3 linked regions of the Homo sapiens genome follow. The protein of the gene in region 2 interacts with the protein of the main gene of each other region in a pairwise test. Each region holds a gene or a part of one and is shown on either strand. Other genes may lie near its edges. The genes, in order: HPGDS, LIF and NCALD.

Region 1 (3,750 bases), on a different chromosome or scaffold from region 2:
GGGAAACCGCCCCCATGATTCAATTATCTCCCACCGGGTCCCTCCCATGACAAGTGGGAATTATGGGAGCTACAATTCAAGATGAGATTCTGGTGGGGATATAGCCAAACCATAACAAGCATTCTATAAAGTAAAAAAAAGCTACAAGAAAGAAAGAGAAAGAAAGGAAGTACCCAAGATAGTACTTTAAAAACACTGTTATTTCCCATATAAAAGAGCTTATTTCCTAATGCATATATTAATATTAAAAGTTAAATCTTCTGCAGTGGATAGCTATGTTCATATGAGTTTATATGTCTAAGTTTTTATCCAGGGTATTTATTAGTCGTTTATGTGTTCTTTGATAAACCGTATAGGTTATTTTTCAAACAGAATTCTAAATGAGCTTTTTATCTATCTGCTGAATTAGTAACTTTACACGATATACTTTGGGGTGTAAGGAAGCCAGTGGTTAATTTTAGATGCAAAGATCTTTAGATGTAAATATCTTCAAACACAATCAGCTTTTAAACTTCAGGCTTCTGTATCATTTCAGGAAACATGCAGTTTTCTCTACATGAGATTCTTAACACAACGACAGTGGAAGGGTTCAGAAATGAAGCTAACAGGAAATAAGGGACCAGAATGATACTGCAGTTTTGCTATGCTAGTCAAATCATACCAAGATAACCTAGATGTTATTTCTGTGTTTGATAGAAAGTTGGGGTCTAATTATGCTTATTTTCCCTCTATTGTCTCAGAACCATTTTAGTCTAGTTTCAGTCTCAGAACCATTTAGTCCTCACTCTATGTCATGTCTGTCCTATATATGAGGTTCTGTTTTAAGACAATGCACCTCTGAGCAAATACCGCATTACAAGGCTTTTTATCTAAGTCTTGCTATCTGGTACATCAGGTCCTCCTCTCCTGTTCTCTTTTTTTCTTTGTCTTGGCTATTTTGGTCCTTAGCATTTCCATTTGAAATCTAGGATCCAGTTTATCTGTAGAATCTCTCGAAGTTTAAATATAGACAATCATTTTGGACACAGCAAATGGATGCTGTGTCGCTCCCTTCCTACTACTTAACAAATGTTATTTATTGTTGTCTTACATTATTGAATTAGCTAGGCTGTCCAGCATTATGCTGAATAGTAGATGTTATAGTGGGATTCTTGTTACTTCTGACATTAAAGAAAATGCTTTTATTGATTCACCATTATGTATTATATTTGCTATAAGTTTTTAGTAGAGACTCTTTATATGGTTAAGGAAGTATTCTTCTATTGCTAGTTTGATAAGAGGTATTTTATTTTGTTTTTTCATTTTGCTAAGAATTTTGATCACAAATGAGTGATAATGTTATAAATGCTTTTTAAAAGCATTTAGTATCTATTGAGATGATAGTATGTTTCATGATAATTCTGTTTCTTATTTTTGAGAGAGAGTGTCTCACTGTCGCCCAGGCTGGAGTGAAGTGTCGCGGTCTTGGCTCACTGCAACCTCTGCCTCCCAGGTTCAAGCAATTCTCGTGCCTTAGCCACCTGAGTAGCTGGAATTACAGGCTCACACCACCACATCCAGCTAATTTGTATATTTTTTTGTAGAGACGGGGTTTCACCATGTTGGCCAGGCTGGTCTCAAACTCCTGACCTCAAGTGATCTGCCCGCCTCGGCCTCCCAAAGTGCCGGGATTACAGACGTGAGCCACTGCACCCGGCCTGATTTTTCTCTTTTAATGTAGTTTATTATACAGATGGATGTTCTGATATAACATCTGGTATTCCTGAGACAAACAGAAAATATAATTATGCAAATAACTACAGAAATGTCATGTAAAAAGTACAGCTTCATTAATGAGTTACAACTGTTGAAAGAATATTTTAAAAGGAAAGATAAGCATTTGTTAGCTGCTATTGGGCCTCTGCCAAATCTTAGACTTCAAGATATTTTTGCAGAGAAATATAGATAGCTACCAACCTATGCTGAGAATTTTTAAATGTCTTCTTTACTTGAGTGAAATACAATATAAAATAGCATGATTTTGAAAATTAACAATAATAAAAAACAATCACTTTGTTTTCATGCAGAATTCAACAGGTGGACACTGGTATCTATGTGGTAATTGACTGAATGAGAAAAGGTTGTATGTTTAACTTTTAATGCTGTTAACTTTTTTTTCTTTTTTCGAGATGGAGTCTTGCCCTGTCCCCCAGGCTGGAGTGCAATGGCAGGATCTTGGCTCACTGCAACCTCTGCCTCCTGGGTTTCAGTGATTTTTCTGCCTCAGCCTCCTGAGTAGCTGGGATTACAGGCGCCCGCCACCACCCCCAGCTAATTTTTGTATTTTTGGTAGAGACGGGGTTTCACCATGTTGGCCAAGCTGGTCTCAAACTCCTGACCTTGTGATCTGCCTGCATTGGCCTCCCAAAGTGCTAGGATTACAGGCGTGAGCCATGGTGCCCCACGTAATGCTAATAACTTTTAATATTAAAGGGAGAAAATATAATTTCTTCATGCTGTGGAAACATTGACTATGCCAACAAAACCAATAAAAAGTTTTATATAGAATGCTTTTCAAATAGAAGCTGCAGGCTGGGCACAGTGGCTCACGCCTGTAATCCCAGCACTTTGGGAGGCCAAGGGGGGTGGATTACCTGAGGTTGGGAGACCAATCTGAGACCAGTCTGGCCAACATAAGTGAAACCCCATCTCTACTAGAAATAGAAAAATTAGCCAGGCATGATGGTGCATGCCTGTAATCCCAGCTACTCAGGAGGCTGAGGCAGGAGAATTGCTTGAATCCAGGAGGCGGAGGTTGCAGTGAGCCCAGATTGAGCCACTGCACTCCAGACTGGGGGACAGAGTGAGACTGTGCTGCAACAAAACAAAACGAAACAAAACGAAACAAAACGAAACACCAAATAGAAACCACAACTAATAATCAAACTTTTTCCACTCTGTAGGCTTTTAAAAATTGTTTTGATATTTAAAACAAATACGTCCAGGAATTATAACTATCATGCTTTTCCTGGATAAGAATAATCTCTTAATTATTATGTTTTTTATTTACTATTTTCGTGCTCTTAGACCTTTTCCACTATTTATTTCTAAGCTCAACATTTCTAAGTAACCTGGAAAACAGTTCCATTGTTCTGATGGGCATTTCATTTAGTCTCCCAAATTTGAACTCCTTTATATGTATAGTTCTCCCTGAAAGAAATTTATGGCTGTAAATCATGGAATTCTTATTTATTTAGTCAATTCTTGTCTCTTTCAAGGACATTTCCCCACATATCTATATATGCGGTGAATGCTACATCTCAGTTGGGTGGGGACTGGACTGGCTGATGCAAACTGGGCAGGAATGATTGGCAGTAGCTCTCTCGTTTTAGCAAGGAGCACCAGCTTCACTCCACAACATCTGGACACAGAAGCCAGGGCCAGAAAAAATGGTTTTGCTAGGAATTACCATCACCGTCACTTCCTGAACCTGGGAGCTTCTAGATAGGCAACCAGTTATTTCCAGGTCATCCTCTTCCCACTAGACTCCAGGAATATATAAACTTAAAGTCAAGACTTGGCAAGCTAGATTTTTATGATTCGTGTTTAACCTTTTATGTGGTGTGATTTCTTTCTTTCTTTTTTTTTTTTTTTTGAGACGGCGTCTCACTCTGCTGCCCAGTCTGGAGTGCAGTGGCGTGATCTTGGGTCACTGCAACCTCCACCTCTGGGGTTCAAGCGATTCTCCTGCCTCAGCCTCCTGAATAGCTG
Region 2 (3,750 bases):
GGGCTGAGATTAAACAGCGATTGGGGGTGGATTATAGGGCTGATGTGGGGTCTGGCTTGCCAGAAGGCATGCAAGGGCCTGGGGGTCCGCTTGGAAGGATGCAGGGGAGACTGGGCAGAATGGTAGATGTAGGGGCAGCTGCAGAACTCTTGAGCCTAATGAGAGACTCAGGCCGGGCGACGGGGGTTTGATGGGTGGAGGCCACAGTGAGCCCCTGGTCACATGGATTTGGGGTCCATGTCAGGAGAGCCAGGCTGAGTCAGGTGGCAGGGGTCTGGGTGATGTGGGATGGGACTGGGGACTGGTCCAGAGCTCACGTGCTCTGAGTGGTCAGGTCCTTGTGCAGGAGATGCTGGGGGAGGTGTAAGAAGAAGGGTTGAGCTGGGGTGTCCTGGGATGTGGGGTTACCTGAGCCAGGCCAGGGCAGGTGAGTCTCCTAGTAGTGTACGCTGACCCCAGAGCAAGTGTATAGGAGCAGTAAGTGCCAAGTGGGGCCCTCCATGGTCCCTCAAAGAAGAGACAAGGTGTGGGGTGAGAGGCAGGAAGGAGGAAGGAGAGCCAGTTCGGGAAGTGCCAGCTGGGATGGGCAGTTTTATCACCTCACATCCGAGGCCCTGCTGGGAGAGAATGGGGGGCAAGAGCGTAGATAAAGCAGGGTGTGTGTGTGGTGGGGAACGGCAGCAGGCACCAGGGCTCGTCCTGGCACGATGAAGGAGGAACCCGTGGCTGGGCAGGTCTGGGATGTGGCAAGAGGCAGGAACTGGGGGCATGGAGGATGGGCGAGGGGGCGGTGGGGGCCCGGGCGAGGCTGCAAGAGCTCCCTGGCCTTGGAAAACCAACTCACACACCTTGATCTCAGGTCAGGGTCAGGCGGAAGGGCTGGGAAGGGGCCACAGGGGACTAAATCATCTCCTGGTACTGGGGGTCCCCTGGCAGCTTTAGGGACGGCATGGCCCCAGACGCGTGGCCATGCTGTCTGGCCGGCATTCCCGCATCTCATAGGGTGTATTTATTTTCACTTTTCTGTTGCATTTCTTGGAGGTGTCCCTGTGCTCATTTTGCCCGGCTCCCCACTGCTCCTTTCTGCCCTTCCTCATTCACAAATCGCCTGGCCTCAGAAGACGCCAGAACATGTGACACTGCCTTAGAGCCTCTAGAAGCACTTTTTGGGGACCTCCATCATTCTCTGAGGCTGGGCTCAAAGGGGCTTCCAAGGCAGGTCTGGAAGGGACCAGCCACTTCTCAGTTTCCCCAACCATCAATCAGCACCCGGAGGAGGAAACTGGGGTACGATTTCGCCAAGCCTCTCTCAGTCCTGCTTCAGAATGGAAATGCTGGACCGCCTTCCCAGAAGCACCTTCCCAGAGTGTCCCGACAGAACTGAGTCAGTCACCCCTACCCCCATGTCTTCCTAGCCCCTTCCCCAGCCTCACAGGTACAGTGGTCAGCAGGGCGAGTGCACTGGTGGTGTCTGGAGGCCTGACCCTCTGGGGCCCTGGGCAACGTGTTCCCCTCGGAGCCCCTTGGGGCCCAGTGGCAATGTGCAGATTGGAGGAGGCTACCTCTGGGGTGGCTTCCAGCGCCCATGTTCAGTTCCACTTTATGACCGTCTAAAGTCCACGCCGGCCCCGGCCCCTCCTCCTGGAGCCTCCTTCTCAGCCAAGCCCTAGCCCTCCTCCTCCCACTGCCCCCCTAAAGCCCCCCAACCAGGGGGCACAGGGGCCAGTCTCCATCTGCTAGTCCAGACTCGCTACCTCCCCAAACCCAGGTGAGTCAGGGCCGTCTGGGGCGCCCACTGCTGGGACCCCTGCTGACTCGGCCAGGGGCCCCCTCCTGGCGATGCCCATCTTCAGACAACTCCCGGGACAAGCCAGGCAGGAAAACCACAGGGCGTTTTGTCGAAGGCTTCATTATAATTTTATCAATCAAATTCTTAGAAGAGGGAAAAAGTCTGTTCTCCCCACCCTCCCCCCTCACTCGTCCCCCCCCTTCACTCTCACTTTCTTCCATTCATAATTTCCTATGATGCACCTCAAACAACTTCCTGGACTGGGGATCCCGGCTAAATATAGCTGTTTCTGTCTTACAACACAGGCTCCAGTATATAAATCAGGCAAATTCCCCATTTGAGCATGAACCTCTGAAAACTGCCGGCATCTGAGGTTTCCTCCAAGGCCCTCTGAAGTGCAGCCCATAATGAAGGTCTTGGCGGCAGGTAAATACACCCGCCCCGCGCCGGCTTCGCGTCCCCGCTGCGGGGCGCGGCGGCAACTTGGGGCGCTTGGCAGCGCGAGCCGGACGCCCACCCGCCGCAGACACACGAACACTTGGGGCGCCCGCGCAGCCACCGGAGGCGCTGGGTGGCGGCCCGGAGCGAGCGCGGGCACATGGTCCCAAGCACCGCACGCCCCGCGGCAGGTTGGCGGCGAGGGAGGGGGCGCCGAGCCTTCCTCCTCCTCCTCTTCTTCCCCCTCTCCTTCTCCTCCTCCTCCTCCTCGCTCCGGACACTCGCTGGCTGCTCTTCCCTCTGCGCTTTCTCCCAGATTCACTCTCCCTCTCTCTTTTTCTTTTCTTTCTTTCTTTCCGCTTTCTCCTTTCCAACCGCGGTCCCGGGCTGCTCCCAGGGAGGGGCGCGGGCGGCGAGCAGCTTGCAAACTCCGGCCTGGGACGGGAGCAGGTGCCGCCTCCATCTGCTGGTGTCTGGAAGCGTGTGGTCTGCGCTAGGTGAGATATAGGGGTGTGGCCCCCCTCCCGCAGCCACCCCGGGGCCTCAGCACTGCCTTGGGATGCTGGGACGAACAGGGGACCCAGGAGAAGTGAACTTGAGGAGGCCCCTGTCCCCGCTGTTCCAGCATGGGGGATCCGGGGGAGGTCTCCAGCCTCACTCGCCCGCTGACCCCGGCCCCCACCATCTTCAGGTGCCCTTCTGCAGAGCCCTGGAAAAGCGTCTAAGGGGGCCTGGGGGGAGTCGGGAGAACAGGCCCCCCTGGGGGAGGGGCAAACCAGGACATGTCGGGACAGCTCCCAGCTCTCCTGTCACCTTTCACTTTCCTTCCTCCCCGCCCACCCGACTGCCTATGACCTTTTGCCTTTTCTCTCTCCTGGTGCACCATTTCCTCTCCCTCCCTGAGCCGGTGTGTGTGTGTTAGGAGGGAGGGGAACCCCTGGGACAAGGGACAGCGGATGAGTCGGGAGAAGGCATGGAGTCAGGGGCTGTCCGGAGCTGGGGGAACAGAGAGTTTTGAATGATGATTTGGGGATGGAGAGTGGGGACAGCCAGGCAGAAATGGGGTGAGCTTGAGTGAGATAGGGGACACTAGGGAAGGAAGAGATAGAGGATGATGGGGGCGGGGGCAGAATTGGGGGCAATTGGCCCAGGGAGCCAGAATCAAGTGGCAGGTTTGGGAGGGAGATGAGGGTCAACCGAGGACTCCTCCCCACTCCCCCATGCCCCGTGGCCCCCATGGGTGCCTGGCTTCGGAGATTTGGGCTGCAATGGGCCAGTGAGTGGGAAGCGCTGCTGAGGAACCTGGGCCACCACGGGAGGTGGGAAGAGAGGGGTCTCCTTTCTCCTGGTGCCTGCTGGGCCTGGGGCCTGGTGCCTTCCAGCCAGAGGGCCAGGGGGCCTTAGGACCTTTGCCTTCCTGAGGGAAAGGGTGGGATGGCTGGGAGTCTCTCCTGGACCCTGCACCCTTTGGGTGGAAATGGCTTGTGTCTTGCCCTCATCTTTACGTCATCCCAGAAGAGAGC
Region 3 (3,750 bases), on a different chromosome or scaffold from region 2:
CCTCCTGCCTCAGCCTCCTGAGTAGCTGGGAATACAGGCATGTGCCACCATGCCTGGCTAATTTTTTGTATTTTTAATAGAGACGGGGTTTCACCGTGTTAGCCAGGATGGTCTTGATCTCCTGACCTTGTGATCCACCGGCCTCAGCCTCCCAAAGTGCTGGTATTACAGGCGTGAGCCACCATGCCCAGCCAGTTCACTGAATATTTTAATAGTTCACTGAATATTTTAATACTGCCCAAGGCAGTATAAAGTATACTTAGTCTTAAAAATGCTAAACCAGTCAAAGTAAAAGTGTTGGTTTTTTGCTAATTTTCAAATTAATCCATTTAAAGTCCTGAATTTTAGGCATTTTTTTTTTTTTTTAGAACTGAGAACTTCTTATTTCAGAAGACATCACCTATTAGCAGAATGTGGCACTGCAGTTTTTCTCTCTTAAATGCTAAAGCTGCATAAAGAGGAGGAAGAATTAATTAGGCAGCTATGGATTAGAGCCAGAGAGATGGTAAATTAAGCAGCTCAGAGAACGTGGGTCCAGGGAAAGCTAGAAGGGTATGTTTCTCTGCCTCTTCCGGTTCCCTCATTTGTATGATGTGCATTTCTGAACATAAAAGCAGAACAATAATTGGAACAAATTGTCAGTTTATGAATTGTGGCTGTTGGTGAAATCTGCCCCTAGTGAGGCTTTAGGTAGACATTGGATTCCATTGTCCTTGTTCAAACAGGTAAATTCCCAGCTGTCATTAATCTGAAATTAAAGGAGGAAAGTTCCTTATAGTTTGATTTCGGTTTTGCAGTGCCACAGCTAATCGCATCAGGAAAATAACTTTTTAAATAAAAATCTATCTTTTCTCCCAATTGGGGCTGGGACAGAAATAAAGGAAGATGAAAAGGAGGATGGAGTAGGACGATTCTATGACCAAGTGATTTGAACATTAGTCTTATTATTAAAGAAGCAATTTCTGATTCTACTAAAGAAATTTCATTCTTTTACAGTGACACAAATGTAATCTGCCTGGCTGACTTAGGTTCCATTTATATTTTGTAGCACCCCAGAGCTACTCTTTTTTATTTATTTATTTATTTTAAGAAACAGAATAGAAGTCGTTATAAGCCTAGCATATAAAGGTCCTTAGGGTTTTGAGGGCAGTCTCTTCTCCCCTGCCTTTTAACTCCTTGTCCTTTGTTTGGGCATACATTTTCTGAATGTCTTTTTCAGAGTACCTTCTTGTGAGTTTCATTGATTTTGTTTAATCGGCTTCCCATTAATTAAGAAAGAGAATTAACTGGGAAATAGGCACGTGTGCAGAGTTAAAAGTAAGCTAGGGTCGTCGTAAAGGAAATAAAGCTGATGTTAGAAAACATGTGAGATAACCCTTTCATTCTATGGCTCTGGGCTTTCATTACACTTTGTGTTTGTGGAACACTGGCCCTGTTTACTCAATGTTGAGTCTCAGCAAAGGGGTGTGGATGAGAGGACTCAAGAGGGGAGCATTTGGCACCCGTATGGCCCCAAAGCACAGTTTTCAGCTTACTCACATGGTTATTTTAAAGTAACACTGTTTTGAAACTCCTTCGGTCCTCATTTTTACCTAGACATTTTACAGTACAGGAATCCTGAATTTATGTTATCTGATGTCTACATCCTACTTGGTGTCAGGATCATTAGACTGTCTTACCTGTCTCTGAGTCATAAGCCACTGTCATGAACCCAAGCCACTGTTTTTTATTTTTCTTTCCATCACAAGCATGGTCTCAGTATATCCATGTAGACTCTGATATAGTTTTTAAAATACATTTTCTTCCAACCCCTCCCCCTGAGCTTCTGTTTTTATATATTTGCTTGCAAATAAGTTTAATTGGCTAAGAAAACTACTCCAGAATTTTTCAGTTTCTTTCCTTTTGTTATAGAGAAAGAGAGAGAGAGAGACATGCTTCATGCTGATGGTAGTGAAACAAATGAGAACTTCAGGGTGGCATATATTTTCCTGCAAGTAACTGTAGAGAAAAGACACCAAAGCCTTAAAGAGGAAAGTTGTAGGCATTCTGGAGTCACAACTTCGGGGGTTGAGGTTGTCAAGGAGCTGTCCGTGATGGTTCTATGGTGTGTGCGTACACACATACTCTCTCTCTCACACACACACACCACAGTGACAGATGACCTATTGAAATAATTTCAGAGCCGGTCTGTGGTTGCTACGACAACCAATGATCTCTTGGCTTTCATCTGGCCATGTGACAGGGACTTTGACGTCAGCTAGAGGCAGAGTCTGTGGCTGAGTCCACACAGTCAAAGGCTTGTGAGAATCTGGTGGATGCTGGACCTTGCTGCTGCTGCTACTGCTGTTTCCAGGGGCTGCAGAGCATGGACTGTTAAATCTTGCACTTCTTCTGAGTGAGGTAATTAGTTTGCTTTATATACAATAGTTAGATGTTTTTATAGCTCATTGTGGTTTTCCCCTCTCTCTTACCTCCTACAAGTTTGTATTCATGAGCAATTATTGTTGTACCAAGGGGAAAATGTGAAGCAGCTTCTAGTTGTGAATTTCAGGCAGGTTCTCTGGAATTTGGTTAAATTTGGATTAATGTTTTGTGAAGTAGGTTAAAATATAATCGTCTTGCTTGCTCAACACTTGCTAACATAACATTATTTAGACATACGGATTTTGCAGCTTGAGCCAAATATTCTCTCTTGAATTCCAGGAATCCTCCCTTCAGTATTGTTTTGGGTTTAAAAACTCCAGCATAGCCTTGCAATGTGTTTCTAACTTTTCTTTTTACAATTGCTACTCAATTCTGAATCAGCCTAAAATAGTTTGGAATTTGGTTTCTATCTTGTTTGCAGCATTCATATTTAGCAACAATAGGAACCACGGGAAATAACATTATAACTGAAACAAAAGTTGGGATTTTGCTTGTAAGTAAAACCTTTGGTATTCTGAAAGTACCAGGAAAAATTGTCAACAGTTTCCTGTTTAGAGAGAAATAATCGGGAATATGCCAAGGAAGTTGGGGTGGAACCTTTTACATGTGTGCATGCAATTGCTTTTTGGTTGTTAGAGCAAAGTGCATATTTCCAGTATCCTCCCCTGAAAATTCAGCTGTGAAGAGAATGGCATGAGGTGGTCTTTACTAAGGAGTCATGTAAGCTGTTGTTATTTTTAAAAATCGTCATAATTACCTAAAGAAAAAAACAATAGCCCTAAAATGAAAAGTATCATTGACACAAGTTCTACTTTAACTCAAACACAGATAGAAGTAGTCACTCACAATTTGCTCTGGATCTTAAATGAATAATTTGATAACTGTGATTAATAAGAATTTTTATCTCTTTATTCCTATAATACTATTTACTACAAATTGTTTTCTTTGTATTGTAGTTCCTTTCCTTCCCAAGTTTAGTAATTTCAGATTTTCTTTCATGACATACAGGTTGAATTGTTTTGGAGCTTCTAATTTAAAGAATACCTGTAGTACTGAAGTTAGCCAAAGTCTAGATTTATAACCAGGTGTCTAAATCTTACAAGTTTAACAGAAAAAGGGGCAAATTTTAGAGCACTACATGTAATACAGCTAGTATTTTAATTAGTAGAAGAAACTGGTTTAACTGTATATATGAATACCATATATTCACAGTGTGTGAATTATATCGTAATTTAGTGCAAGAATATATTGTTTTAATTTTTATGTTCTTTATTAGTTTCAGAATTCTAATAGCATTTATTTTACTCTTGGAGGTGAAAAATTTTG

The links.
Region 1: the proteins of LIF (region 2) and HPGDS interact in binary tests that used the Homo sapiens proteins (3 or more experiments, as listed by UniProt).
Region 3: the proteins of LIF (region 2) and NCALD interact in binary tests that used the Homo sapiens proteins (3 or more experiments, as listed by UniProt).

The regions. Positions count from the first base shown.
Region 1 is NC_000004.12:94,336,090-94,339,839, reverse strand, and holds part of HPGDS (hematopoietic prostaglandin D synthase), read left to right. Parts: intron 1-3,750. UniProt on the Homo sapiens protein: Bifunctional enzyme which catalyzes both the conversion of PGH2 to PGD2, a prostaglandin involved in smooth muscle contraction/relaxation and a potent inhibitor of platelet aggregation, and the conjugation of glutathione with a wide range of aryl halides and organic isothiocyanates.
Region 2 is NC_000022.11:30,245,142-30,248,891, reverse strand, and holds the start of LIF (leukemia inhibitory factor isoform 1 precursor), read left to right. Parts: upstream 1-2,132; 5' UTR 2,133-2,196; coding exon 2,197-2,215; exon of another isoform or gene 2,216-2,387; coding exon of another isoform or gene 2,388-2,724; intron 2,725-3,750. UniProt on the Homo sapiens protein: LIF has the capacity to induce terminal differentiation in leukemic cells.
Region 3 is NC_000008.11:101,789,512-101,793,261, reverse strand, and holds the start of NCALD (neurocalcin-delta), read left to right. Parts: upstream 1-2,292; 5' UTR 2,293-2,400; intron 2,401-3,750. UniProt on the Homo sapiens protein: May be involved in the calcium-dependent regulation of rhodopsin phosphorylation. Binds three calcium ions.